Regions from separate parts of the Homo sapiens genome. Here region 2 is linked to region 1. Evidence: fine-mapped expression QTL. A gene starts in region 1. The other region holds a variant in brackets. All regions are shown on one strand. Distances are between the middles of the regions.

The links.
Region 2: its variant is fine-mapped to the expression of OLA1 in whole blood (INTERVAL, PIP above 0.99).

Annotation. Positions count from the first base shown.
Region 1 is chr2:174,240,543-174,256,394 of GRCh38, forward strand. It overlaps OLA1 (Obg like ATPase 1), which reads right to left and starts at 7,990. Exons shown (of 11, transcript NM_013341.5): 1 at 7,910-7,990; 2 at 6,173-6,273. The coding sequence starts at 6,273. RefSeq lists a silencer at 7,776-8,295.
Region 2 is chr2:174,113,127-174,128,978 of GRCh38, forward strand. OLA1 (Obg like ATPase 1) reads right to left here. Exons shown (of 11, transcript NM_013341.5): 6 at 10,469-10,549; 7 at 10,054-10,151. Among named protein-coding and RNA genes, the nearest start is that of LINC01960, 96 kb to the left of the region's middle. RefSeq lists enhancers at 7,690-9,610, 10,883-12,509. The variant A/G (reference allele first, on the strand shown) is at 6,968.

The DNA.
Region 1 (15,852 bases):
AACTCATATCCAGAATAAAAAACTAATCATTAAGAAAAAAAAAGACTTTTTACATAAGATATCCAATAACATATGGAAAGATGCTCAAAATCACAAGCCATCAAGAGATATCTCTGATATCCATAGATACCTGTCTTCTCGGTAGACATGGGAATCTGACTCTTAGCTTAATTTTATCAGCTCTTTAGAATGAAAATACTCAGATCATCAGTATTTGCAGCCTAGAGAATAATTTTCCTCCTGTGAGTTCCTTTGAGCAATCAAGAATGGAGCTTCTAAAACACAAGTGAGCTAAGAATCAACTAGGCAGACTTCTAGGAACACATAGACATCACATATTTTGTATCAGGAAAATAGTGGACTGCAGTGGATTGAAGATGGCCACACATTTTTTGTCACTCCTCCCATCAAGAGGTAGAGTCTATTTCCCCTCTCCCCATGTCTCTGGGCTGGTGTCATGACTTGCCTTGACCAAAAGATTTCTGTGTAAGTTTGCTATGCCACTGCCACACCTCCATTCTCTCGAGAGCCAGACGCCAAGATATAAGGAAGCTTGGTCTAGAGACCACTTAGAAAGAGAATGAGGCCAAGTATAAGAGAAGTGCCCCAGACTTCCAGTCAATCCAGCTAAGGCCCCAGATCTGTTAAAATGGCCATCTTGGATCTTTCAGTCTCAACTAGCCACCAGCTGAATGCAGTCACATGAGGGATCCCAATGAGACTGGCAGAAGACCTTTCTAACTCACTACATTCCCGACGAACAAAAATTGTTACTATTTTAAACCATGAACTTTTGGAATGGTTTGCTACACATCAACAGATAACTATACAATGGTGATAATTCTCTTGTGATTTTTTCTTTTTTTTAGCATTTTCTACAACCTTTTCCCTCAGCAATGGTAAATGGCTTTCACAGACGCTGTGATTGGTCTGCAGAAATTTGGGAGAAGGCAATTTGCAGGGACACCAAAATGCATTCCCAGAAGGATCAGCTAAACAAGACAATTACTCTCCTGGGGCAGTTTGTGAGTGTTTGAACACAGTATACTAGTTGCCCATAATATCCATTTTCCCCTTCTTTCAGAGTAATCGTTTTTTGTTTTTTCTTTTTAAGACAGAGTCGCACTCTGTGGCCCAGGTTGGAGTGCAGTGGCACAATCTTGGTTCACTGCAACCTCTGCCTCCCAGGTTCAAGCCATTCTCCTGCCTCGGCCTCCCGAGTAGCTGGGATTAGAGGCGTGCGCCACCACACCCAGGTAATTTTTGTATTTTTAGTAGACATGGGGTTTCACCATGTTGGCCAGCCTGTTCTCAAACTCCTGACCTCAAGTGATCCGCTTGCCTCAGCCTCCCAAAGTGCTGGGATTACAGGCGTGAGCCTCTGCACCCAGCCAAGAGTAACAGAATTTTTAACCAAACATGTGGCTGTCAAAATAAAGACTACATTTCCTTGCCTTCCTTGCAACTAAATTCTTGTGACTAAATTCTGGACAAAGGGATGTTGGCAGAAGTATGGTATGGCAGTTTACAGGAAAAAGGCTGCTAGTCAAGTTTGGCCCCCTGACCCTTCGGATAACCAGCTGCCTGGAATTCACAACACCTTAGACCAGCAGCCGCCAACCTTTTTGGCACCAGGGACTGGACCGTGAATTGGCTGATGGAAGCCAATTTTTCCACGGACCAAGGGTGTGGGGGATGGTTTCAGGATGAAACTGCCCCATTTTAGATCATCAGGCATTAGTTCGATTCTCATAAGGAGCGTGCAACCTAGATCTCTTGCATGCGCAGTTCACAACAGGGCCTGCGCTCCTCTGAGAATCGAATGCTGCTGCTGACCTGACCGGAGGTGGAGCTAAGGTGGGAATGCTCACTCGCCTGCTGCTCGCCTCCTGCCATGCAGCCTGGTTCTTCACACGCCACAGATCGGTACCAGTCCCCAGCATGAGGTTCGGGAACCCTAGCTCTAGACCATGAGGATGAGGCCACATCCTAGGGATTGCCAAGCTGTGAAGTGAAAGGAGCATGGGTTCCTGAGGACTTCATAAAGCAGGTCCACTATACCAAGCTATGACTGCAAAATGTACATTTTTACATGAAGAAAAAAAACTGGTTATCTGGGGTTTTCTGATGCTCTTAATTGAACCTAATCCCATCTGATGCAGTGGATAGCAACAAGAAGAGCTATCCCTCACAGAAATAAAGAAGTTTGGAACACTGTATCAAAACGTACTTTCGCCCCCAATATTCTCTAAGCCTCACAACCACAATAATACACTGCTCCAACAGGAGCTCATTTATAAAGGGTCACTCAGGTAAGAAAAAGCAGTACAGAACTAGAAACCAAATCTCCATATTCTTTCTACTTCATTAAAAGAGGTCATTTAATTGCCCAGCACGGTGGCTCACACCTGTAATTCCAGCAGGCGTGAGCCACCACACGGGGCAAGGAGACAGGCTTTTTTGTGTTTTTGTTGTTTTTTTTTTCAGATGGAGTCTCGCTCTGTCACCCAGGCTAGAGTGCAGTGGCGCGATCTCAGCTCACTGATACCTCCGCCTCCCAGGTTGAAGCAATTCTCCTGCCTCAGCCTCCTGAGTAGCTGGGATTACAGGGGCGTGCCACCACACCTGGCTAATTTTTGTATTTTTAGTAGAGATGGGGTTTCACCACGCTGGTCAGGCTGTGAAACCAGCCTCAGGGCAGCATGGTGAAACTCCATCTACAAACAATACAAAAATTAACCAGGCACGGTGTTTTGTGTGCCTGCAGTTCCAGCTATTCAGGAGGCTGAGGAGTAGGGACTGCTTGAGCCCGGGAGATTTAGGCTGCAGTGAGCCATGATCATGCCACCGCACTCCAGCCTGGGCAAGAGAATAAAATCTTGTTCAAAAAACAAAAACATGTCTCCTTATCACTAAATCTACATCCAGCCGTCAAAGGGGAAATATGTATCCCATTAACAAATAATTACTAAATATCTACTATGTTCCTAACACCATCGTGTCCCGTTAACAAATAATTACTAAATATCTACTATGTTTCTAACACCAGTCTAGGCACTAGAAATATACCAATAAGCAAGAACGAGACAATCGGTACCTTCCTACCTTCACAGAATTTAAATTGCAATGGAGGGGAATGTCAAACCACTTATTAAATTAGATAATATATATAAAGTACTCAAAATAGCGATTGGCATATAGTAAATGTTCAATATCTGATTAGCTATAAATATTACCTCTAAGTTTCTGGGTCATCAGCCTTATGCAGACTAAAAAGTAAGCCTTCCTATTCACCCAGCTAAAAACCAAGAGATTCTCTAGATGGTTTTGTACTGAATGTCCTTACTTTTGATCAGCAGGCCATCCTTTAGAGAACCGTCTCCCTCCCACAATCTATATCTTGTAGATCTATACAGAAGCACACAAGTCCGGTCGGATTTCCTTACTCAGGAATTGGAATTACAGGAGAGACAGGAAATGAGAAACACCCAGAAATCCAGGGATTCACATGGCTGAGCTCCACATGGACCCATTTCTGCCAGCACCACTTGGCTCTTATCCCTCTTGAGGCCTGGCTGTTCAGATTGTAATTCACTTATTCCAATAAACCTCTTTTTCCTGCTGAAAACAGCCAGAATTGTGTTGCTTACAAAGAATCCTACCTGATACAGTTGTGTGAAGTAAGATCATTCTACAAAAAGTAGTGTTTACAACCAAATACAATTGCCGAAACTCATTAAACTGTACCTTTAAAATGAGTGAATTTTACTATTTGTGAAGTATACCTCAATGACACTGGGAGGGGAAAGCATTTTATTTAAAAGTGTAAACAGCACACACACTTATTCTGAATAATAAAATATTTTTAGGTTACTTCCACGTACATTAATTTCATTATGCTCTATGACTAAAAAGCTATGGTCGTCCCTCCATAGCTGCAGGGGATTGGTTCTAAGATTCCAGCAGATTGAGTCCCTTATATACAATGGTGTAGTATAATACCTAATGCAATGTAAATGATAGGTAAATAGTTGTTTACTATTTTTTTTACTGTTATATTCTCATTTTTTATTTAATTAAAAAAAAATTTTTTTTTTTTGAGACGGAGTCTCGCTCTGTCACCCAGGCTGGGGTGCAGTGGCGGGACCTTGGCTCACTGCAACCTCCACCCCCCGGGCTCAAGCTGTTTCTCCTGCCCCAGCCTCCCGAGTATCTGGAATTACAGGCTCCTGCCACCATGTCCGGCTAATTTTTGTTGTGTTTTTTTAAAGTAGAGATGGGGTTTCGCCATGTTGGCCAGGCTGGTTTCAAGCTCCTGACCTCAAGTGATCCACCCACCTCGGCCTCCCAAAGTGCTGAGATTACAGGCATGAATCACCATGCCCAGCCAATTTTTTAAAAAAATATTTTTGATTTGAGATTGGTTGAATCCAAGGATGTGAAACCACAGATACAGAGGGTTGCCTATATGTACAGAAAACACTTAATATGGCCCATTTTAATATAGTCCCATTTAAAATCAAGTTGTAGTAACTGCAACAATTCTAGAATGAGAAGTATGTCAATATCTCAAAACTTAACTTCCTTACTAGTGCAATAAAGCTCACAACATAAATAATGATCATAGCTTGCTTTCACGTTTATTGATAGCACCCTACAGTATTTTGATTAATTATTTGTTTTGCTTACATTTCAACTCTCTACTTAGTCTTACTCTGCAAGCAGACTATATCACAGCAGGAAACCCCTTCAAAATGAAAACCTCTTCAAGCTCCAGGAAAGACTGAAATCAGGACAGCCACACTTGCTCATGTTTTACATTACATGAATTTAAGACATGCCTCACTTGGTCACGCCATGCTCTGTTCATTGAGGAATCTCTATGACAGGAGCTCCTCGGAATACCTAAGAACATGATTGTCCTACTTGCCACCAATCTAAAAGGCCACCCTTGATCACTTTCACAAATCCACACTGAATCTGCTACCTATTAGTACACCCTAATCACTTTTGAGATGTTTTATATTTTAAGGTTAGTGAAAGGATAAATAATGAAAAAGGAACACTTGGACCCAGTGCAGTGGCTCACACCTGTAATCCCAGCACTTTGGGAAGCCAAGGCAGGCAGATCACCTGAGGTCAGGAGTTCAACACCAGCCTGGCCAACATGGTAAAACCCCGTCTCTACTAAAAATAGAAAAATTAGCCGGGCGTGGTGGCACATGCCTGTAATCCCAGCTACCCGGGAGGCAGAGGCAGGATAATTGCTGGAACCTGGGAGGCAGAGGCTGCAGTGAGCTGAGATCACGTCACTGCACTCCAGCCTGGGCAAAAGAGCAAGACTCCATCTCAAAAAAAAAGAAGACTTTGAACACTTAAGTTGCGTGTGTATAGAGTTATGATAAACCCCACATATATTTCCTATCACTCTCTTATTTGCATATATTCAATTCACTGTAACTTTGAAAACATTACAGCTGGGCTCAGTGGCTCATGCCTGTAATCCCAGCACTATAAGAGGCTGAGGCAGGTGGATCATATGAGGTCAGGGGTTCAAGACCAGCCTGGCCAACATGGTGAAACCCCGTCTCTACTAAAAATACAAAAATTAGCTGGGCGTGGTGGTGCGCGCCTGTAATCCCAGCTACTCAGGAAGCTGAGACAGGAGAATCACTTGAACCCGGGAGGCAGAGGTTGCAGTGAGTCAAGATCATGCCACTGCATTCCAGCCTGGGCGACAGAGTGAGACTCCATCTCAAAAAAAAAAAAGAAAAAGAAAAGAAAATATTACAAAACTCAAATTTCTGCTCTCAGAACTTTCAGATTTAGACTCTTTATAACAGCAAACCTTTTACGATTTCCACTACGAAATTCAAAACTGTCACCTCCTTCTCCATCAAGCTTATTATGGTGGAGCTTTCAAATCAATTTCCTAAAGTAGCCTACTGCATGGCCTCTGGTAGACAGCCTATGTAGGTACCACACATAGCCAACCAGCACTGAAATCAATAAAATACATCTAAACTAAAGCCTAATTTTGCAATATTAATAGTCCAGCTTCCTGGCCTCTTTTCTTCAACTTAAAGTTTAATTACCTCACGGTTCCCATTTCTACAATAGGACCCAAAATATTTACAAAATGAAAATCACAAAAGCCCCAACGTTCACCTACCCAACATTTGGCAATCCAACAATACCAATTTTCAGTGAGGTTCCAAATCTTCCAATGATTGGGGGTGGTTTAATTCCATCACCTCCCTTTTTAGGGGGCATCTGAAATACCAAAGCAAACATATGAACAAAACTTTTTACTATCCACATGGACCCAAAACACATTTCATCACATACAATATATTATTGAATTAAGATTAAGAACAAAACATACTGTATATAGCGATCCAAAACTAACACAGAGCTAAATCCACTTTTTTTTCAGCAAAAATGTTTAAAAAGTTCTGTAAACATATCCGTTGTCAAAAGAGTCATTGCTGAGAAGTCCCAGAAAGACTGATCTAAAATCAATATTTGTTGGGCCGGGCACGGTGGCTCAGGCCTGTAATCCCAGCACTTTGGGAGGGGGAGGCCGAGGTGGGCAGACTGCTTGAGACCAGGAGTCGAGACCAGCCTGGCCAACACGGAGAAACCCCGTCTCTACTAAAAAGAAAAACAAATACAAAAAAATTAGCCGGCCATCAGGCGCGCAGCCTGTAATTCCAGCTACTCGGGAGGCTGAGGCTCGAGAACTGCTTGAACTCGGGAGGCGAAGGTTGCGGTGCGCCAAGATCACGCCACTGGGCTCTGCCTGAGCGACAAAGCTAGGCTCTGTCTTAAATAAATAAATAAATAAATAAAATATTTGTGGCACCAGGAATCAAAGATAAACTTAGAGTTTAGCTACCAATCTTCCATCCAGACTGCTCACAAAACACTTTATATCTTAACCTGATATATGGTTATATGAAAGAAAGCATTTGGAAGCAAGTACACAGAAGACAGTCAAAGAAAATTCCATTGTGGAACCACCAGCAGCCAAGTCACCCTTCACACCAAACCATTCCTCTATAATCTGGAATCTTATCTTTCCCATTCGCCCACAACCCCCATTTTTCACATAGATGAACACCCACCAGGTACTGGGGTCCTTCCACCAAGTCCCTCCCACCTTTGGCACTGAAGGTACGGCTCATCAGTCCTCATAAGCAACCTCCAAAATCTACATTATGGTTACTATTTCTAATGGTAAATTAATCGACGGAACCTTTTTATTTACAAGTCGAAACTTTCTCTGTCCCTTACTAGTTCTGTCTCCAAATCATGCGTGCAGAATTACTCCCACCCTTGGACTGCAAAGTGAAATCACAAAGACCGCTAAGCTCACGTCTCAGAAGCTGGGAACTAAAACTGTCCCAGTCTTCTGGCTGAGAGTTGTACCTCCTAGGACCACGCTGGGGCCCTGCCCTTGCAGTAGTATTCCAGCCTCTGATCCCTGACCCCGAGGGCCAGGAATTTCCCTTCTCAGCGTCCTGACACCTGTTCCTGGCCAACTCCCAGGCCTCCAAAGAACAGATACAGGAACAGCGCCTGTCGGGTCCTCTGGCCTACAGAGAGGTGGCCGGCAGCCCACCCAAAGTGGGCCCCACCCCCCATCCTCCTCTCCGGACTGGGCCACCGGGCGTCCTGGCGTCGGGAGAAGGCTTTCCCCAGGGCTTTCCCGCGTGAGGCGTAGGCCGATCTCCCGACGCGCGGCCTAGTCCGACAGCGCCTCATTCATCCACACATCCCCAAGCCACCCGCTGCCCTGGCCCCATCTTGGCCACTGGGCCCGGGCCCCGCGCCAGCCTCAGGGCAATGAGCCCAGGCGCCGAAGACCTGGCGGAGATCGCGCCCCCGGGCTCCCTGAGGGCCTCACCGTGCTCGGCCTGGGCGATGACACGGGGTCCCAGCGGCAGCGAGAGAAAGGTCCTGCCGGCAGCTGGAGGCGGGGAGGAAGGAGGAGAGAACGCAGGCCCGTCCCCTCCGCCGAGCGGCACGCACGACGGCGGCGACAGCGGCGGAACGGGCGGGCCGGGCGCCGAGCGGCACCTGCGCGCAGACCATGGGCCCCGCCCCTCCCCGCCTTGCCCGCGCGTCCCGCCCATTGGCCTAACCGGCCGGGGAGGCGGGAGTAGGGCGGGAGGAGCCCAGGGTGGGAGGAGCCGCGCGGCGGCAGGGAGCTGGAGAGGGGAAGGCGCTGGCTAGGCCGTTCCCGGGAGCTCTAGTCTTCCGCTTCGGCACGTGGGCTTCTCGGTTCTAGGTCTCCGCTTCCGTCTGGCTGCGCGGCCTGGGTTACCTGCTCACGTTCACTCGCGGGCCTACAGCCCCAAGCTTTCCCAGCTGGACTGCGGAGTGCCTTGGGCCCTGACTTCCCTCCGGGAGATCCGGGGCGTCTGAAGTCAGGCAAACAGCCACACCAGCCCCGAGGACCGCGTGGCCGCTAGCCCATCTCCCTTTTCTATAACTTTATTCGCTCAGTCTGTGCGGAGAGAAGCTGTTAACTAAAAGTTCTTGAAGGAAAAGGGGCTAAGGGAAACTTTGGTCTAGGGATTTCTTCCTCGCCTTATAGTTAAAGCGTCGCACACAGGTACTGGATCACAGAATGCGTTTAATTGAGCCAATTTCCCCCCTTTTCCTCTTGGTAGTTGAGAGCAGGGGCCTTTGAAATTTGGGAATTTCCAATCTGGATTTCGCCACTCATTGACTGTATGACCCTAGACAAATTAACTTCTCTGGACTTCAATTTCGTTCTGGATAAAATGAGGCTATTAAAACCACCTTATGAGGTTATTCGTGTGAGAATAAAATGAGACAATGCGTGTTGAGCTCATAACAACAGTACTCAGCACATACAGAAAAGGCTTGTGAGTAGTCGCTGTTGTTAATATTAGGATTTCATCCCATCTCACCCACATCATATCAATACCATGAGCGCCACTGGAGAAGGAATTCTTTCATTTAGGTCCTGGCCTTCAGATGTCATTCAGGTATTTGTTGTAATGAATATGATACCTGTCCAAAAATTGTGACACTAGAAGCTCCTTTTAAAGGGATTAGTTGCTATTAATATTAAAGGATGTAAATAGGTCGCCATCCCCATTTTACAAGTGAGGAAACAATATCAGAAAGGTTGATTAATTTGGATGAAGTCACACAACTAGTAAATGGCAGCAGCATATTTCAAACCACAATCTAACTGAAAATCTGGCCGTAATCCCAGCACTTTGGGAGGCCAAGATAGGGGGATCAGTTGAGCCTAGGAGTTGGAGAACAGCCTGGACAACGTGGTGAGACCCCATCTCTACCAAAAAACAAAAATTAGCTGGGTGTAGTGGCACATACCTGTAGTCCCAGCTACTCAGGAGGCTGAGGTGAGAGGATGGCTTGAGCCTGAGAGCTCAAGGTTGCAGTGAGCTATGATCACTGCCGCAGCACTCTAGCCTGGGTGTAGAGCAAGACCTTATCTCTAACAAAATAAATACAAATAAAAAGTAAAACTAAAACTATCTGAAAAATCTGTTTCCTTTCAGCGAGAATTCATTTTTATTTTTTGAGATGGAGTCTCACTCTGTCGCCCAGGCTGGAGTGCAGTGGCGTGATCTGGGCTCACGGCAACCTCCGCCTCCCGAGTTCAAGCAATTCTCCTGCCTTAGCCTCCTAAGTAGCTGGAATTACAGGTGCACACCACCACACCCAGCTAATTTTTGTATTTTTAGTAGAGACGGGGTTTCACCATGTTGGTCAGGCTGGTCTCGAATTCCCGACCTTGTGATCCACCCACCTCGGCCTCCCAAAGTGCTGTGATTACAGGCGTGAGCCACCGCACCCAGACGAGAATTCATTCAAATAGAGACTCCCTATAAGCTCTGAGCCAGTATTCATAATAAAATTGCATTAAGGCTTTTCCTTAGCCCTGTAACAGTGCTCTAGTGAGGTGAGTTAAAGAGCTTTCTCTACAATTTTGGAAATTCTCAAGGACACAGGCAACTTGATTTGGTTTTGTATTACTTTTTCTTAATATTATATATTAATGTGCCCTATTTATATTCTTGGTCTAGTACCCTTGTCACCAAAACTATATATGTATAAAACAGCTATCTTGGTGCACTTTAACTATGAAAAAGAGGGCTAACTAGCCCAAATTTTGTGGCCACTGTGAAAATAACTCTCAGGAACAGCCCTTCAAAGTGATTCCTGAATCATGTACTGATATTTTAGTAATGAAGCTCTATAGTGGATTCACACTGCTGCTTGTGGAAATAGAGAGGAACCATTACTTAAAAAGCTTGCCGGGTGCGGTGGCTCACGCTTGTAATCCCAGCACTTTGGGAGGCCGAGGCGGGCGGATCACGAGGTCAGGAGATCAAGACCCTGGGGAAACCCCGTCTCTACTAAAAATACAAAAAATTAGCCGGGCGTGGTTGCGGGCAGCTGTAGTTCCTGCTACTCGGAGAAGCTGAGGCAGGAGAATGGCATGAACCCGGGAGGCGCAGCTTGCAGTGAGCCGAGATTGCGCCACTGCACTCCAGCCTGGGCAACAGAGCGAGACACCGTCTCAAAAAAAAAAAAAAAAAAAAGCTCAAGAGGCCAGGTCTGGTGGCTCACACCTGTAATTCCAGCACTCTGGGAGGCCAAGGCAGGCAGATCACCTGAGGCCAGGAGTTCAAGACCAGCCTGGCCAATATGATGAAACCCCGTCTCAACTTAAAATACAAAAATGAGCTGAGTGTGATGGCGGGTACCTGTAATCTCAGCTACTCGGGAGGCTGAGGCAGGAGAATCGCTTGAACGTGGGAGGCGGGGGCTGTAGTGAGCCAAGATCACACCACTGCACCCCAGCCCGAGCAATAGAGCAAGACTCCATCTCAAAAAAAAAAAAAAAAAAAAAAACTCAAGAATCCCAGAGAGCCCTCTCTGCCCAGCAACCAGCCACTCCAATACTGATTGAAAATGTTCCCCGGTCATGGAGTACTAGAATCATCTTCAACTTATCACTGTCTTTTGGCCAAATCTAGATACTTCTTCAATATCAGAATCTCTCAGATCTACCCATTTCCTTAAATCTACACTATCAAGTTCTTAATCACTTGTTTCTCTATAACTACATCTTTCTTACCTGCACTTTTAACCACCTTTAAAGCGCCTTCCCAAAACAGGTTACACAAATCTCAGGCAGTATTCAGGAGTGGCCAGCTGGTGCTGCCAACACTTGCCTGATAATAGGACTCCATTTCCAACTCACTGTCACTGGGGGTAAATTTGTATTCACAAGAAAGAAGATGTGATTGGCCCAGTTCTGGTAAAGTTCTAACAAGGGTCCCATCAGCAATGGCTACGTGGGTAAGGGTCACATAGTCAAAAAGCTGTATGAGTGACCTCTCCCTGCCTACCAACGAAACACATAGTTCTCAGAAAAGACCCTAGTGGGTATCTACTATTCTACAACGCTAAAGGAAGACTCAGTGAAACAAACAGGATATTAGTAGTTAACACTGGCCCCCGCCACGGTGGCTCATGCGTGTAATCCCAGCACTTTGAGAGGCTAAGGTGGGCGGATCATCGGAGGTTGGGAGTTCAAGACCAGCCTGACCAACATGGAGAAACCCCGTCTCTACTAAAAATACAAAATTAGCTGGGCATGGTGGCGCATGCCTGTAATCCCACCTACTCGGGAAGGCTGAGGCAGGAGAATCGCTTGAACCCGGGAGGCGGAGGTTGCGGTGAGCCGAGATTGCACCTTTGCACTCCAGCCTGGGCAACAAGAGCAAAACTCTGTCTCAAAAAAAAACAAAAACAAACAAACACACAAAAAAATAGTTAACACTAATGCCAAGCCTAAAAAAGGGACTTTGAATAGAGGAAAGCATGTTTTTGAGCCTTTGCACAAAGGGAAGTCTATTTAGTACCCATTGGGCTCAATGATTAAGTTAAACCTAGAGGAAAGAATCAGATGTGGTCTAGAATGAAAACTGAGCAAAAGATTTCAGTCAGAGGGGGAATGAGAATAGACCATCAGGTCAGGTCAACAGAAGGTTGCTACTAAGGAAAGATCAATGGAATGAAAAAAAGTAGAGCCCATGGTTTCACTCTTTGCTATCGTTACCCTCTCTGGATTTTTCTTTCCTTACCAGGCTCAGCCAATGACCAGGGATCAAGTGAGTTGACCTAAGGTCACAAAGGATCTAGAGAATGGCTTGGGGTCAGTAATTTATCCCCAAATACAGAGTAGCTCTGCTGGAAATTCAGAGATTTATTGATCCTGTGCAGAAAGCTAAGCAACAGGAGACAGAAAGAGTACACAAAGAGAGAGGATGAGAAGGAAAAGAGGAAAATAGCAGCAACGTATTCACCATGTGCTAGCACGGCCTGACTACACCTGTTGGCCAGCCCCGTCCACATCTGTGAGGGGCATAACAGAAAACAGAATAATAGTAATAACTACACTAAAAGGGAAATTGAGTCCTGATAATAACTTTAGGAGGGGAAGGGGACAAGTGCACAAAAATAACTACCCTATATAGGTAGTTAACTTAAATTGCACTTTTCTTTTATTACCTGTATCAGATGTTTTTCTCTCTCTACACTAAGCTTACTATCATATCCAGAATTCAGATGAAGGACTAGGATAGTCCCATATGCTTAGAATATCCTACTCTGAACATTTTTGTTATTGTCTTTTATATAAAATTATGTTCTTGAACACCTACTCCATCCCAGGCATTGCTGTAGGCCTTGGAGTAGTGAAGAATAAGATAAATATGATTGGCCGGGTGCGGTGGCTCACTCCTGTAATCCCAGCACTTTGGGAGGCCGAGGTGGGCGGATCACGAGGTCAGGAGATCGAGACCACCCTGGCTAACACGATGAAACCCCATATCTACTACAAATACAAAAAATTAGCCAGGCGTGGTGGCGGGCACCTGTAGTCCCAGCTACTTGGGAGGCTGAGGCAGGAGAATGGTGTGAACCCAGGAGGCAGAGCTTGCAGTGAGCCGAGATTACACTATTGCACTCCAGCCTCGGTGACAGAGCGAGACTCCATCTCAAAAAAGCAAAAAACAAAACAAACAAACAAACAAAATATATATAATATATTATATATTATATATAATATATTTTATAATATATATAATATATTATATATTATATATAATATATTTTATAATATATAAAATATATTATATATAATATATAATATATTTTATAATATATATAATATATTATATATAATATATAATATATTTTATAATATATATAATATATTATATATATTATATATTTATATTTATTTATATATTCATAAATATATATTTATATATAATATATTTTATAATATATTATATATAATATATAATATATTTTATAATATATTATAATATATAATATATAATATATTTTATAATATATATAATATATAATATATTATATATTTATATTTATTTATATATTCATAAATATATATATTTATATTAATATATTATATATATGTTTTGTTTGTTTGTTTTGTAATATATATATATATATATATATATATAATCCTTGCCCTGAAGGAGCTAGCAATCTAGTGGAGTAGACAAATAAGTGACTACACAAATAATTATATAAGAAGCTGATAAAATATATAGAAGGATACCTAAATAACTACAGTTTGAAAGTTTAAAATAAACCATCTTGGTTTTCACTTACCTTCACAACTTCTGATATTATGTACGAGGCAGTGCCTAATCATCATCCCCTTTCCTTTTCCATCACCAGCAATACTCAGACCCTCTTAGGCATCAGCAAAGAAACAGATTTTCCATTTTCTTTCTTTCTTTTTTTTTTTTTGAGACAGGGTCTTGCTCTGTTGCCCAGGCTGGAGTGCAGTGGCCAGATCACAGCTCACTGCGGTCTCGACCTCCTGGACTCAAGCGATCCTCCTATCTCAGCCTCCCAAGTAGCTGGGACTACAGGTGTGCCCCATCATGACAGGCCTTTTTTTTTTGTATTTTTTGTAGAGGCGAGTTTTCTCCATGTTGCTCAGGCTAGTCTCGAACTCCTGGAGTCAATTGAGCCACCCTCCTAAGCCTCCCAAAGTGCTGGGATTACAGGCATGAGCCACCGTGCCCGGCCCAGATTTTCCATTGTCATTCTTATGCTTGAAGAGTCTGTTTCTTGAGTTATTGAATTTGGACCATAAGTTACCAGTGAAGTAAAACACAAGTAATCAATTGCTTCTATTCTAGAATTTCTCATAGTATTTGAAAGAATGCTGATTAAAAGAGCCATGTATCCTAGAAACTGCTGGAGTTTTGTAATATCTATTGTAATTCATGGTTTAAAATTTAGGAATCATTTTGTTCTTGTTGTTAAGATACAAAGTCTCCCTATGTTGCCCAGGCTGGAATGGAGTGGCTATTCACAGAAGTGCAGTGGCTATTCACCAAGGGCTGTTCATAGCACACTGCAGCCTTGAACTCCTGGGCTTAAGAGATCCTTCCACCTCAGCCTCCCAAGTAGCTGGGACTACAGGTGCATAACACCACACCCAGCTAATTTATTTTTCTTTGGTAGAGACAGGGTCTCAGTATGTTGCTCAGTCTACATTCAAAGTACTAGGGCTCAAGCAATCCTCCCTCCTCAGCCTCCCAAAGTGCTGGAATTACAGGCATGAGCCACCATGACCAGCCTCAATTTAGGAATTCTTAAAAGAAAACTATATATATTATTTTCTCAGAGGCAACATAAAAAGACATATCCTAATCCAGGAAAGTAAATATATTATCATTGTATTAGCTAGCTAATACTTTGAGATATAAATAACAGAAGTTTTGATTCAATGAAAATGTATCATATATAACAGAAAGTACAGAGCGGGAGAACAAGGGTGATAGATTCAATAGCTCAACACTATTTGCAAGGAGACTAGTTCTTTCCATATAATGTCCCTGTCTTCCTTGGGCTTCCCTGGTTTTATTCTTAAGCTAACAGCAAGCTATGATAGCAGTTCTAGGCAGCATAACCAGAATGACAATATTGGGGTAGAGTGGGACCATCTCTTTCAGTAGCTCTCTTTTAGTAAAAAGGGAAACATGTTTCAGATCTCTCCAGATAACTTCTTCTATTTCACTGGGCAAAATTGGGTCTCATGCCTGTGCCTGAACCAGACACTGGCAGGGAAAATGAACTTACCCTTAGACCATTTAGTCCATCCTTGGGACTAGAGGAGAAGTCAACTTCCTCTGAGGCACATGGCTGTGTGAAGTATGGATAGATATCTGAGCAAAAGCAGGGTTGTATAAGAAAAGGACACCAGCAATATTCACTTCCTGAACCATTTTTTCAAGATAACACATTGAGCAGAGTATGGTAATTCTGGAAAATATCAGTGGCATTGGTGGTCATCTGATATGATATATACAAATTGTAATATGATAAACGTTGGCACACCTAGTTCACTGAGAAAACATTGAAGAAAACTGATCATCTTCTAACAACACTTAATGGTGTTATAAAATGACAGCATGTGAAAACAATATGTCTACTAACCTTTACAAGATACTAAAAATTCCCATCATGGAAGTGGAAGGTTGCTTACCAAAAGGTGTCACAGTGGTCACATCGGTTGAGCTGGAAATTGGGGAATCTTGTGCATGGGCCTAGGTCACCCAATTCATGGCCTCAACATCAGCTCAGCTTAATGTATCATTTTCATTGCAGTTTTGAACCTGTGTCGTTCATTTCAAAGAATACTTGTACTACTCAGAATAGGCTATATAATAATATAATAGCAAACAACTCCAGAATTTGAGGGGCTTAACAGAATAAAATTCTTTTCTT
Region 2 (15,852 bases), 130 kb before region 1:
TAGAGATGGGGTTTCACCATGTCGGTCAGGTTGATCTCAAACTCCTGACCTCAGGTGATCCACCCTTCTCAACCTCCCAAAGTGCTGGGATTACAGGCTTAAGCCACTGTGCCCAGTCAAATAATTATTTTTAACAAATTATGGTTTGCTATAACAGAAAAAGTTAAATCCTGTTTATCATATCAATATATAAAAACCAATCTGTGGTTACAGGTATGTTTTTGGGGGGTTTATTCTGTACCACTATTTTAGACTTGGCAATTTCATATAATTTTTAATTTCGGTTTCAATAAGAGCCATTGTATTTTCTCCACCAAAATTTTTATACATGATATTGCGTAAAAATGCAAGCTAAGGTGGGTCCTAAAATATATTGCTGTTGCCTCTTAACAATGTTATTAAATAGTTAATAAAATTACGAGACAAGGCAAAAACAGCAGCAGCAAATGCTTATTATCCTAAAAAAAAACCCACAAATGTTGTCTTGAGAATTGTTCTTTTTAACTAAAATCCTAATTTAGTTTATTAACTAAACAATTGGATGGAGATTAAACTTTCTGAGATAAAACAAAGCAAAATGCTAAAGTTGCTGACGTGATATTTTCAAAGATTTCTGGAGATTCACAAACATATCTTGTACTGTCGCTTAGCTGTCAGTCATCCTGTGTGGAACAGTCGCATTCAGGTCAAATGGATCTATTTCTACCACTTACCTGCTCCAAGAACTTGGGCATGTTTTATAATCTTTCCAACCGCCTGCCCTATCTGTAAAATGGGCATGATAATATCTGCTTGATAAGTATAATATCATACATCTCAGCAATTTCCAAGCTCAGAATGCCCATCACATAGCAGGAACTCAACAATAAATAATGGTTTGCTATGTATGTCTTTTAGTTTGGTATAAGAAAAGCTAAATCGGCCGGGCGCGGTGGCTCATGCCTGTAATCCCAGCACTTTGGGAGGCTGAGACGGGCGGATCACGAGGTCAGGAGATCAAGACCATCCTGGCTAACACGGTGAAACCCTGTCTCTACTAAAAATACAAAAAAAAAAAAAAAAAAAAATTAGCCAGCCTGGTGGCGGGCGCCTGTAGTCCCAGCTACTCGGAAGGCTGAGACAGGAGAATGGCGTGAACCCGGGAGGAGGAGCTTGCAGTGGGCAGAGATCGCGCCACTGCACTCCAGCCTGGGCGACAGAGCAAGACTCCGCCTCAAAAAAAAAAAAAAAAAAAAAAAAAAAAAAAAGCTAAATCAATTATATTAAATGGAGGAAGCGGGGAAGCAGGACATACAAAAGAAAAATGACAAAACTTAAAAGTCATGTTTGAAAACTGCTAGTGACCTTCATGTTGGACATCCATATACGTTCCTGGGGAAAAATCTTTTAAAATTTCATTTAAAAAGGCTAAAAATGATTACCAATGAACAGATGCTATTTGATCTTTTCCTTTTAAATTTCAAAATGGATTAAATCCAACAACATTTCCCACAGCCCCATAATACATTCTTTTAAAAGAATCTCTAAGGAAAATGCTGATTATCACCCAGGAATACTGATGACTACCCCTTGATTTCAATGACAAATATTTAAAGTACTGAAAAGGCACTGCTAAATCTTTGCTAATGAAAAGACAAAGCTTATTTCTCTCTCTGTTGGAGTAACCCATTCCTAAACTAATATGCAGAACTCTTATTCCAATGATGCAAATGCTTCATTTTGGCCAGGTATAGTGGTTCACACCTGTAATCTCAGCACTTTGAGAGGCCAAGGCACGTGGATCGCTTGAGCCAAGGAGTTCTAGACCAGCCTGGGCAACATGGGAAACCCTGACTCTTACAAAAAATACAAAAACTAGCCAGGTGTGGTAGCCTGCGCCCGTCAGGGAGGTCCAGACTGCAATGAGCTGTGATTGCACCACTGCACTCCAGCCTGGTCAAGAGAGTGAGACCCTGTCTCTGAAAAAAAAAGAAAAGGAAAAAAATGCTTCATTTTAGTAAACATTCAATTCAAGGCCAATGTAATAGTGTAATGAGGGTCATCTCGGAATTTGAGGATCAAATGAAATAAAAAAGCTGAAACACCGTAAGGCTCTAGACAAATGTTGGCTGCTGTTATTTCTTAATAAAGTTCAACCTATTTCTTTGAAGTTGTACATCGAGGGGCTTTTAAAAAGTGCTTCATAATTGGTAGCATGAATCAACAAGTCACTAGACAAGCATGGAAAAGGAAAGATGAAATTTGAAATAAATTGCAATTATTACTTTAAAGGCTGTTTAAAACACTTAGCAATCAAAAATATTTCTGGACTATAAGAAATCAACGAAAGCAAACTAGAAAATACATTATGGTTATTCTTAAAACCCAAATAAAATTTTAGAACACATTTAGAACATGTTTAAAATGTTTCAATGGTATGTACTTAAATAAAAACATATACGTTTTTTCAAGTGGTTGTCTTCACATTTTATTCCTTTTTGATGGCCCATTATGCTCTACATCAACTGACTCCTGTTTCCTTCTCCAACTTCAATTCCTATAACTCGTATTCTGTTTTATTCCATCTAGCTACCTCAGAGCCTTTGTACTTGCAGTTTCCTCTCCCTGAACTGAGCTTTCCATGGATTCTCTCATGGCATGTATCCTTATTTCATAAGGTCTTCCCCAGCCGCCCTAACTAAAACAGTTTCCTCTTACTCTGCTTTGTTTTTATTCACGGTCCTAATCATTCCCTGCATTATATTAAATGTCTGTTTGTTGGATGTCTATTACTCCATGAGACTGTAAGTCTTCCAGGAGAAAGGGCTTTTTCTGTTCACCACCTAAGATAATACATGACACACAGAAGGGCTTAATAATTCTTAATAATTATTTGCTTAAAAAGGAAAAAGAAAACAGTACCCACCTCCTCAATGAGCTCACAGTCTTCAAAAGGAACATAAATTTGAAATTTGCATTTATAATGACAGTTTTTTTTACCAAGTTTTGCTTTTCTTGATGTAAAGCATTAAAAATACAGATTGCACAGCAATGTGCAGTCCCAGCCTTATATAAACAGGAGTATATGCAAAGTTCATAAGTCGGTTATTTTAAAACACATTTTTAAAAAGCAGAATTTTAAAACTGGTCGTAAAAATGGTCACAGATACAAAAATATTTCTCAAATTGTTCTATTTCTACTACATTGTGAATTAAATAGGCTTTTGAGGGTGAGTCTCACATTCTAATGTTTTTGATGGGACATGCTTTCTAGGTCAATTTAGAATAAAGGAATATAATAGTTTAAGTAATGTTACTGATCTCAAATATAGATATGCCAATTCACTTTGCTCTTATTCTAGCCAAAGCAACAGCTGCCCACTAAGATAAAAGATGGGAAGAAACATGGTGAGATGCAGAAAAGGCTTATTTTCAAGGCCCTGAGATATGGAAGAGGGAATGAGAGTAGGAAAAAAGATCAGGTCTTATCTGTAACCCAGCCCAGAAAAGTTGCTCTTAAATTGGGCTGCAACCTCAGGAATGCTCTGTACGCAATTAGGAAAAGTTACTATGGCAAACCTAGATATTTGCATGGGTATCTTTTCTTTATGAATTCATTACACTTCATTAAAATCATAAAATTCTAGCCCTGGAAGGGAACCTTAGAGATGATCTTTAATTCTTTACTAACTTGCACTGCCTCACCCCCAACACATACATACATACATTCATACTCAGAGAGACTGAGATATATGAAATCACAATGAAACTGTTTTAAAAGGTTTTTAAAAGAATAAACAATTTTCTTTAAAAAATCATGCTACTGTAACATGATTTTACATAAAGACTGTACATATTGTAACAATGTAAACAAAGAATGATTTACTCTAATGGAAGCCAAGGGTGACAATAAAATCCTCTAAGCTGCAAATGGTGAAGTTATAGGGCCCAACCTGAAAGAGGGGATGGGGTTGTAGAGAACATGGCAGTGATATCATGGGAGTCTCACTGTTATATTTATACATGTAATAAATTTTGTTCCTTAATCCAATAACAGAAATAAAAACCAAGGTAATGTATCCAAAAGATGCATTCACAAGGCCAAAACAAGTTCTTTTTCCATTATTGAATACTTTTTGAGCTATAAGTAAATTTGGGAAACATTATTTATACAGAACACATTTTATATGAACAATCTCAATGAATTATCTTCTACATGAAAGGCTAAGTAATTTAAATGGCCAAGTTCAAAGAGCTACTTATAGTAGCAAATAAAGACCATAGCACTTGTATTTCAAATTCTAAAGTAGTATTCTTCTTAACACACCCAACTCCTTGATAGTTTCTACTCCCTAGGTTACAAATAGACCATATTCTCCAGTTTTTTAGGATTCGTTTTCTTTATAGAAACAATATTATTAATGGTCCCTAACATTTTGGGCTAGGCTTCAAGTCTATTTAACTCATCAAATAGTTAAACTACAACATTAAATCCAAAGGTAGATGCTGTGTCTGGGGAACATGCTGCACAGGAAAGAACGGTAGAGACAAATAATGCTCTTCCTCCTATCCCACACAAGCAGGACACATTAGGCTGTAAAACACTGACATTGTTCACCTTTCCTTTTCTCCACCCTTCTCCCAGGAAAACCTGTTATTCAAATCCTACAAACTATCTTGAACCTCCATTCTAAATCCTTCCCGAGGTCCTGCCCTATATTTCCCACTCCCAACAGTCCTGAGATTTCTGAGCTTCAAAATTCTCCACTACCCTCTTCACCAACTACTAAACTCCTGTATTAGTCCATTCTCACATTGCTATAAAGAAATACCTGAGACTGGGTAATTTATAAAGAAAAGAGGTCTAACTGGCTCACAGTTCTGCAGGCTGTGAGGCACGGCTGGGGAGGCCTCAGGAAACTTCCAATCATGGCAAAGGTAAACAGGAAGCAGGCACAGCCGGAGAAGGAGGAAGAGAGCAAAGGTGTAGGTGCTACACACTTTTAAACAACCAGATCTCATGAGAACTCACTCATTATCACGAGAACAGCAAGAAGGAAATCCACCCCTGCGGTCCAATCGTCTCATACCAGGCCCCTCCTCCAACACTGGGAATTATAATTCAACATGAGATTCGGGCAGAGACAAAAATCCAAACCATATCAACTCCGGTTGTAAAAGTGTAGCTCATCCCAACTCAGTGTTTTGGTAACAAAATATGACTCAGAGATCCTTAATCTCTAGTGCAGATTTTTAAGGGGATTGTTTTTGAATTATTCAACAAAGTGAGTAGGGTAGGGAAGCAAAGAAATTCTTTGTGTAGATGAATCATTTGTAATTTGAAGAACACTGGATAGCTATAAACCAAACTTTATATTTCATTTCCTAGAACATAGATGTGTGTACATGTATAGAGAATATATATTTTAATTTCACATGACAGAATCCTAAGGAACACTTAATTTTTTAAAAAGTACTTATAAACCTTTTAATCTGTGGAAGCTAGAAAAAATTTTATATAACTTTTCCTGTTTATGTGGAGTGAAATTCTTCAGCTAGTTTGAAAAAGATGAAAGTCCTGACATATTTGATAAATTACATCACTCACAAATCAGTAAGTCAGCAGATGGTGCTAATGAAGATTACAACGGGCACTCCCAAATGTATCACTTTCTTGAATTCAGTGAACCATCTGGCAAATAGAAATCATTGGCTATAAATAGTATTGCAAAAAATACAAACAGGCCAAGGGAAATTCCTAATATGCATAGGGTCAGTAGCATTATGTTCATATAAAAAAAGTGCTTTCGTATATAATTATCTCTTTCATAAGAAACCAGAAGTGCACTACTGTATTGTTATCTCTCGATAAGAATATGAAATTGTCGAAAGAATATTCAAAACCCATTTAATGAAAACCAAATAGGAATTCACAAATATTATTACATGTAAAAATATATTCAAATGCAAAAGTACATTTGACCAAAAAAGAAAAAAAAAAAAGATTCCTGAATGGGCAAAGGTTTTTCCCCATCCCCACTTCTTTCAGCCTTCCATCTCCTGTAATAAAAAGATCATTTTTCTTTATCATATTCTTTTTAATTCTAAAGATTCTGATCAGAGAAAGAAATAATCAATTCCACAAAATTCATTCACCAAAAAATTATTTGAAATCCTAATTCATAGTATAAATAATACTGTTAACAATAAGCTTTATCATAATACAAAGTAATCTTTCCAAAGCAGAATGTCTGTGTTATATTTCTAGCTTAAATGATCTTGTCAGAAACTGATGACCTCCTACAATAGTTCTATAGAAATAGTTTTTTATATTTATATGCATATATGTGTTTGTATATATATGCACACATACAGAAATAGAAAATTGTGTGTCAAAAATATACACACTTCCACCTACATATACACTTACTGAGATATAGTAGCTGTAATTTTTATAGGCAGCTCAAGAAATCAAGAAAATATATTTATTCCATGATTCCCCCCAAACCAAGCACATAATGTGTAGTATCCCCAAACTATTTTTAGTTGTTATGTACAAATTATGTGGAAAACTAATGAACACATAAAGATGGGAAAGGGGAAGGAACTGAATCATGGTATAATAAGAATAATAAAACATTTTTCTATTTAAAATGCATTTAGTGAACTTGACACATTGCCCTTCATTATTAAACAACTTAAAAGACTTTCCAAGTATTTGTCTACCTATCTTGAATCAATTTCATCACTCAGATTAATTGACTCATATAATATTACCCAAAAGGTAATGTTAAATGACTACAAGCCCACCAGGGCATATGAAAATGTGTGTATAACACACACACACACAAACACACACACACACACACACACAGTCTGCGTATCTAAAAGTTTAGTTATATTTTCCAGTTGAACATAAATATGTAGTATAATAAATAATAAAATATAATTATCCTTTATTAACAGTTTCAAGAAAGGTAGGATCACA[A/G]AAATGAAACATAATTGATGGCTGGTAGGTGTAAAAAATATGTAAAATTAGTTTATTCTACTGATTTCATAATTGGATGGCATATTCTACTAACAGAGCAGCAAGGGTGCAAAGATTGAAATTTAAACCCCTAATTAAGCAGTAGTTTGACAGTTCTAATGTCCTGTACCTGCTTGACACCATGACTCAGTAAGCAATCTCAAATGAAAATTAATACCGTCTATAGTATAATCTTAGTTATAAGTAACAGCTGATCGTGTTTAGAAAATGAAAACCTCAAGTGTTCAAAAATGCTTGTGCTCACCAAAAACAACAAAAACTTCTATATAGTTTTACTCATTCAAGAAACAGCAATTTGTAATAATAAAAAATGGTTTGTGGATTCACTTACAACATCTTGATTACTGTCATTTGATCATAACACAACTGCAACCAACCCGGCTGCCATGTCAGCTTCTCTTCAGGGGCTAGGTCTTTAGTCATAAATCAATGAAATGACTAATTCAATGACTAATGCTTGCAGCCATTCCAGTTTTTGCATCTCACAAAATGTCAATATAGCTACTCAATAACACAATAGACTTATCTTTCAAAATGCTTCCTTCTTTTCTAGGGTTGAAAAATAACACATTACCATTTACATTTAGGGTGAACTTCAGTAACTAAAGTGTTCAATACTTCTGAAATGGTGACCTGCTAAAATAACAACAGTTTTAGTCTCCTCTTGTGGCCAAAGTCACAAACCTCTCCTCTCCTCTTTCTTGATGGTTTAAAATAGTTTTCCAGATCTAAAAGACCCATGAAAGTATTTATTACTGTTTCCTGCATCAGTCTTATTTGCTATAGTAACATTACATGTTAATCTTAAAAAACAAAAACTTTTTCTTTTGCTAAAGAAGCAACTAATAATGCAAATGGAGCTTAGATGTAAACATTACCAAAAAACAAGATGCTAACACAATTAAAAGGATTTAGTAGTTAAAATGGATTTTAACTATTTACATCTGCTTTCAGTGTTATAAATGATGAAAACCTAGTGTTCATATCCCTCATAATAAAAATTTATTCTGCACTTTAATACAAAGGCTATGTTGCATAAACAGAGAGGATTTAAAGCTGTAGCAGAGTGGCTGAATGAAAGGAAAATGGCAATCTTTCTGGCTCCAGTAGATGCCATTCCCTATCACACAATATTTCCCACTCATAAATATATGACAAATACTTCCTCAATCATTTTTTACGAGCAGGGATGCACAGGGGGTAGTCAATGGCTAGCTTGAGGGAAAATAGGAACAGCAGGCGGCAGAAACTGTACAGAAAATGGCTATGTGGTAAATTCTCTTCTGGAACATCATTCAGTTACCCAGTCTTTGATCTTTCAGCTACAATTACACTAACTTCCACAAGATCTGGATCCCTCCCAACCCTCCCCCCAAGACATACACACACCAACCCCAAGCCAGATCATTAGTTATACATAAAACCTATTAAGATTTGGTTTTATAAAATAGGATCATTCATACCTCTACATTATTATAAATTAAAATTTGCTATTTAGACAAGGGTTTACTTTCAATTGGCTATAACCATGTCATCATCACAACTGGTCTCACAAAAAACATGGGGTGTCTGGCGACAGCTAAATCACAGACTGGCGTCTCCTAAGCAGTCTGTCTACCATTAGGGTCTGGGAAATGGTATTTACTATACAATTAGAGCCAGGGAGTTCTACCTGTAATCATCCAAATACAGGTGTGAGAAGTCCCTTTGGGCAAGGAAACTGACTCATCCCTTTTCATGTAAACTTTGATGTCTGTATTGTTTCACAGAGCCTCAGGAAACCTTACCATTCATACCACAATGAGAAGATTTATTAACTGAGGTCAAGTAATAAATTTTAAAATTCATTCCTAAAGGTAACAATTTTTAACACATTAATCATCAAATTTATAAGAATTTGAAAGGCGACAGAACTGATTATTTTAAAGTTAATTACCTGATGGAGGATACTGACCAGCTGAATGAAATCTTTATGTTAAATTTATGCTTTTTAGAACATTACCAATAAAGAGGCTAAATTCATCTTCCTATCAGGAACACAAAATGTCTTATAGTAATATCAACAGGGCATTTTTAGTTGCAGTAATTTCACAGAATTTATTCTAATGATTTATTGGAGTTAACCATCTGACATTAATTATTGTTTTGGCTTCCAGTCTATGAATGTTTATTTTTCAGTTTAAAGCCTTCTCACTCTTTGATATCATATGGAAATGAGAATTTTTAATGGAAAATTGAAACCATGTGCATCTAAGTACTTAATGAAGTACAGGGAGAAACAGACAATATAGTTTAGGAGAATTCAGATATTTTGCTTTGGATAGTTTTGATTTGTTTGTATGACTCAATAGTATAAAATACTTAAGAGTCCAGTGAGGCAAGTCAAAGTGAGTGGTATGCCAAATGTGGACATGCCCACAGGTACATGAACATATAATTTTCTGAAGTTATCAGTGATAGTAACAAATCTTGTACATTTTGGTTACATGCCAAAAATGACAATCAATACATGAATGCATAGTTTTTACCTCGATGTACTTTTAAAGCATTTGAAACAGGTACTGGTCTTTCCCCACACACAGTCTTTTTTTTTTTTTTTTTAAAGCATTCAATCTGGATTTTAAAATTCATGCCCAGCTACAACCCCAGGTGGGTATTTTAAAGTCACTTATAATATCAACACAGCTAGAAATTCCTAGTGTAAGAAGTTTTATTGTTGTGACTACATTTATTCTCATTTTGCAATGGAAATAAACGATAATGTCTAATAAACTTACATTTGATAAGTAAATGTATATAATTCAATATTGCTTATTTAATTCAGTTTTTCTTAAGTTCTCTAAGTCAATTAGAAGACTCATCTGTGAAGGTAAATACCAAGCACAGCTTTCTCATCCATTTTAAACTTTTTAATAAGGAGAAAAATATTAAAATTAAACATTGCCGTTAAGTACATATATGTGGGTGTGTGTTTGTGTGTGTACAGAGATGATGCATCTGGGTATATCTGGTGAGGAAAAACTTACCATTTGTTTTTCTTTCTAATGTAGTCTTTTTCAGAAAGATTAACCAAGTAGACCATTGGTTTTGAAGTCAAAAATAAGTGTTTATTCAACACTTCAATCTAAAGTGGGAGATGGAGAAAGAATCCCTTTTAAAAGTTTAGTAAATATGGAGTAAATCACTGAAGAATTTGAAAGTAAACATTCCTTAAAACAAGTAGGCATTTTCATTTTTATAATTCTTCTTTCCAAAAGATTAGTGGTTATGAAATATCATGAGTGGGGGAAAAGAAAAAAATAACAAGCCCAGGAATAAGCAATCACTGACAGAAATAAAAATTTAGATATAATGGTAAGTGTAAAATAACAACAACTCTAATTTGTTCCCTAGCAAATGAAAGCAAAGGCAGTAATAGATGGCATGATATTTACAACTTACCTCTTTGTCATTCCAATCATGATAGAAGCGAACAGGTTTCTTTTGATCTATAACCCAGGATTTTACTTTGCACATTATATCCTACACATGATTGAGAAAAAGGTAAATATATATGAATAACTAAACATTTAGATACTAAATATTAAAAAGTTTTCAAATTTTCAAAATAAAAATAGATTGTTTTAATGAAAGGGGGCTAGGTCACACAAATAATTATTTTCAATATCTCATTTAAAAACCAATTACTAATAAAACATTGTGGCATTAAATTTTTAATGTATAAAATGGACAATATTAGCAAAAATTAGTAACAGCCTGAAAAATGTCAAGACAATTCAATTACATCAAAGACTAATACAAGAGTTACTACCATTTCAATATTACCTAGTGATGCCATATAGAAGACAAACATGCTATTAGAAAATGGAGTGAGGGGATATACTGAAGAAAGACTAAATTATATTTTTCCCCTAAGAAGAAAAACAAACAAGACAAAATTGAGCCTATTATCGATGATCCAGCCTCCAAAATATTAAATCAACTGACCAGATCCCTTTTTATTTTAGATTAATTTTTTGCCAACACCTTCTCCCTGCCCACTTCTCCCGCAGCCGCACCCCCAATACCCCCAACTCCCCCACCCCCCGAACCTGCCAAAGCCTCCATTACACAATGGCAAGAGCCCTGCACTGGTGACCTCCAACCAGCTGCATTCACTTTCAGAACATCTCTCTCTGCTGGAAATCTAAAGGCCTTTTAGTTAGCAAGCTAGTGTGCATTCAGAAGGAGTAACTGCAGGAAGAGCCCAATGTGCTTTGTTTCTCTGGCCTTTCTTCACAGAAAGATTAATCATCTGTGAAATGGAAACGGCAAACAGCAAGTGACACAAACTGAACCCTTCAAGCCTTTCCTCATCAGTTTTGTGGTTCTGAATCTAAAAGCTGCGTGTGGCAAGGTTCTCCTTACAGGCAGGTGTTAATAAAAGGCTCTGGGGTCTGAAAGGTCAAATTTAGCTCTTCCAGAAGAAGTGCATTTGAGAGTCATCTGGGTGTCTGTTGTTGTTGTTACTAAAGATAATTTATGGATATGTTTTAAATATGCATTTCTCAAAATTTATTGTAACACAATTATTAGTAATCAATTTCCTGGATTTTTATCAATGTATTTTACTTTACCATAATCAGTTATTCTTCTTTAAATATCCATTTGTATAAATTATCTCAATATTTAGTATACCTTCCTTCCAAATTTTGCTGTTACCAACAGGAAAAATAAGGAAAAAGCCTTATATCCTTAGATCCTGATTTGAAACCCTCCAGGCAAAGGACTTCCCACAGATTTTAACAAGGAAGGGGCAAGCTGAAAACTTTTAATGAAATCTAACATGTTCGGCTTAAGAATAATCACTTTTACTCTTCTATAACTGAATTTCACTCATAAATGTTTAAAAGTGGCTAATGTAACACCATTTCCTACAAGGAGAAGATCAAAGTGCTATATTACAAATGCATTATGATTAAAAAAGCCCTGTGCAGCCTTGCTATTAACTGTTCTTTAAACCCTAAAAGGCTTCCCATAGATCTCACTTGGCACTGCATATACAACCTTTGACAAGTAATGTAGACCATTTTTATTCATTGCCTAAAATTGTAGGCAATTATGTGCGTCACACTGGCCACCTGCAAATTCTGAATGCCTGCTCTAGTTGTCAGTGCAAAAAACTAATGTCGGAGGGGATTAATCTAGGGGGAGAGAGTCCTCTTTAATGGCTCCAGCAGGTGAAATGGCCCAGCTGGTTACTATGATGAGTGGCCAGAACAGCTTATGTAGAGACACGCAACAAGATTATACAAAAGAAAGAAAAAACAGTCGTACCATCTTATATTTGGTTCCATTAGTTTTTTCAATTAAAGAAAGAAAACAGACAAAAGAAAGCCAAACAAAAAATAGGGGAAGAAATTAAATTTTAATCATATAAAAAGTATAAAATACTTCTGTAACTACAAACATTTTTACAAAACCTCAGAGCCTCAATAAGTGCTGATCACCAGTGAAGGAATTTCAGTATTTCTCTTTCATTTTAAATTAACTGGACCATTATTTCAGATATAGAAATCTTATCACAAAAGCATTTTGGCATTTGCTTTTTCTCACATTACAAATTACATTACAAATTAGAAGCACTCAAAAAATTTTTTGCAGTCAAGTTTTAATTAAATAGAATTCACTTATAATCAAAGTTCTTGAACAGCACAGTATTCCTTAAAGCCACATTCAAATATTTTTAGAGAAATTTATATATTATAACCTAGTTTTTGGACAGTTGAAATAAAAACATTTTGTACTCAGTGCTCTCTTAATTATTCCCACAAAAGATTTAACAGCCAAGAAAAGACAACTTAGATTTACTAAAAGATGTCAGTTTTATTTAAGACAAATCAAAAATAGATTGCTTTTCAGATAAGACTATCTTATATAAATGATCAGTATATGGTATAGTTTCAATGTGCTCTTTTTCTTACATAAAGTAAAAATTCTAATTTTAGCAAAAAATTAAAAGATGTTATATTCTTTATCGGAAAAACTTCTAAACAGATGAAAGAAAACATTTGGGCTTGTTTGGATATAATACTTATTGGTTGATTGAATTTATTTCCTTATGTTCATATATATAAATACATATATAAATAACGATGATTAGAACAATAAAAGGTTCCAGTTAACTGAGCTTGGTTAACTGGAAAAAAAAATTGAATACCCAATGCATTCAGAAGTTGCCTTAGGTTCCATATTTCTTTACTATCATTATATAGAAATGCAGATGTAGGGGTACTAAATTGGGCTGTTTTGGTAACTTTAACAAATCCCTCATTTTCAAAATAAATTCTGTACATTATAGAGATACATAAAAATTCCTGGTCATTTGAACTTTTCGGTTAGACTGCAGTTACATGAGTGGACTAATTCAAGAGGTAACAGTATAATGCTTAAGCATGGGAATAAATCCTAGCCACTTACCAGGTCTGTGACCTACTTCATTGATAAAATGCAGAGGATGAGATCTACCTCCTAGGGAGTGTTGTGAAGATTAAAAGAGATAGTGCATATAGTGTTTAGCACAGTTCTTGGCACAGAATGAATTCTCAATAAATGTGAGTAGTTGCCATTGTTGTTATGATTGCTGAAAGATTAAATCCCAGTGATCTACAAAATGGCAATATGTTCTCTTGGGTGCTCCTTTAAAGCATATGTATACTTTTTCATCTGTATAATTGTTCACTAGTCCTTTTCTTCAAATTTCTGAGTTTCTAAAAATACTGGCTTTTTTCATGAAATCTCAAGTCAGGCTTCTAATCTTAACATTCTGCAAGAACTAGCTTTTGCTAAATGACTATCTTTTAACTGCAAAGAAACTTAACCCAAACTCACCTTGAATACCTCACTCTTCTGCTTTGACTCTTCTTACTCAGAGCTTCACATTTAAAATTAGAAATGCTCTATTTTCTTGATATATTTTATTATTGTTATTGTTAACAGCAACTGTAATGTATTTAGACTCACAGCTTCATGTGTGACTTGCCTAAATTCCCATAGCTAGTAAGTGGCAGAGATGAGATTCAAATTCAGGTCTAAGTGACTTGAAGGTTCATGTTCTCTTCCATACCCTGGCATATTTGTCTTCCTTACTGCTTTTATAACTGTTCCTTGTTTAGCCTAGACATCCCCCAAGGTTGTTACCCAAAATCCTCATTCTCATTCAGGCTATCAGAGAAATTCAATATTCTTATTTTAATTATTTGGGTACAATAGCTGATCATTAATCCATGTATCACAAAAATAGTAATTTTTCTTTGCAGACAATTATATAATAATCCAGTCATTTATTATACATTCCTAAAATACTAGACTTCTCTATCTTGGTATCTTCAGTTCCCATAGCAGGAATTATTAACCTATGATCCATAAATAGATTGCAGGGGTTCCTTACCACCCTGAAACTGTACATAAAGTTCCGTTTATGTGCCTTTGAGGGAAGATGGCACATAACTTTCAAATGCTTTTCAAAGGGATCCATAATCCAAAAATCCAAGAACCATGGCTATTAGTGACTTTGATGGCAATACTCAAATGTCCCAACAACAGTTAATTAAGTAAATGTTCTAGGTCCAGGGACTCCCAGACCAGAGGTTGAGACACTGACCCAAAACATGCTTTAGCCAGACCCTGCACTGAAAATTTCTCTATCCTGTCCAATACTGCACTGATAAAAATTCCACCTTTTATAATGTTTATCTAACAAATTCCAGTTAAAATCATAATAGGGATGTTGGAGAATATTATATATTAAATATATCATTATTCTAAAAGAACTACTTGCTCGAGGGTAAAAAAATGTTTAGGGAGAAAAATATAGGACTTGTCCTACTAGATATTAAAATAAACCATAAAACTATAGTAATTAGAATAGTATGACACTGGCACAAGAAGACAGATATAGATTAGAAACAATCTAAAAAGCCAGGCATGGTGGCTCATGCTTGTAATCCCAGCATTTTGGGAGGCTGAGGCAGGAGGCTGGCTTGAGGCTAGGAGTTTGAGACCGTCTTGGGCAACATAGTGAGACCCCATCTCTACAAAAAATAAAAAAATAAAAAATTAACTGGGCGTGGTGGTGTGTGTCTGTAGTTCCAGCTACTCAAGAGGCTGAGGTTGAGGGGGGTATTGCTTGAGTCCAGTATGAGGCTGCAGCAAACTACGATCACGCCATGCACTCCAGCCTGGGTGACAGAGCGAGACCCTGTCTCCAAAAAAAAAATGAAAGAAATAAACATTTTTTTTTTAAATAAAATATAGGCTGGGCACAGTGGCTCATGCCTATAATCCTAGCACTTTGGGAAGCCAAGGCAGGTGGATCACCTGAGGTCAGGAGTTTGAGAACAGCTTGGCCAACATAGCGAAACCCCATCTCTACTAAAATAAATAAATAAATAAATTAGCTAGATGTGGTGACAGGCACCTGTAATCCCATCTACTCAGGAGGCTGAGGCAGTAGAATCACTTGAACCCGGGAAGTGGAGGTTGCAGTGAGCCGAGATTGCACCACTGCATTCCAGCCTGGGGGACAAGAGCAAAACTTGTCTCAAAAAAAAAAAAAATAAAATAAAATAAACAAAGAAAATCTAAAAAGCCATTAATTGGAGATTTGCTAATTAAGTTATGGGGCACTGATACAACAGAACACTTTGTAGTCATTAAGATGAGATATATCTATATGTACATTTGCATGGGAAAATGTCCAAAATATACTGCTAAGTGAGAACAGCAGGTTTAGAACAATGGAATATGGTTAAGAATATGGATTTTGGCCATATTCCTCAAGATCT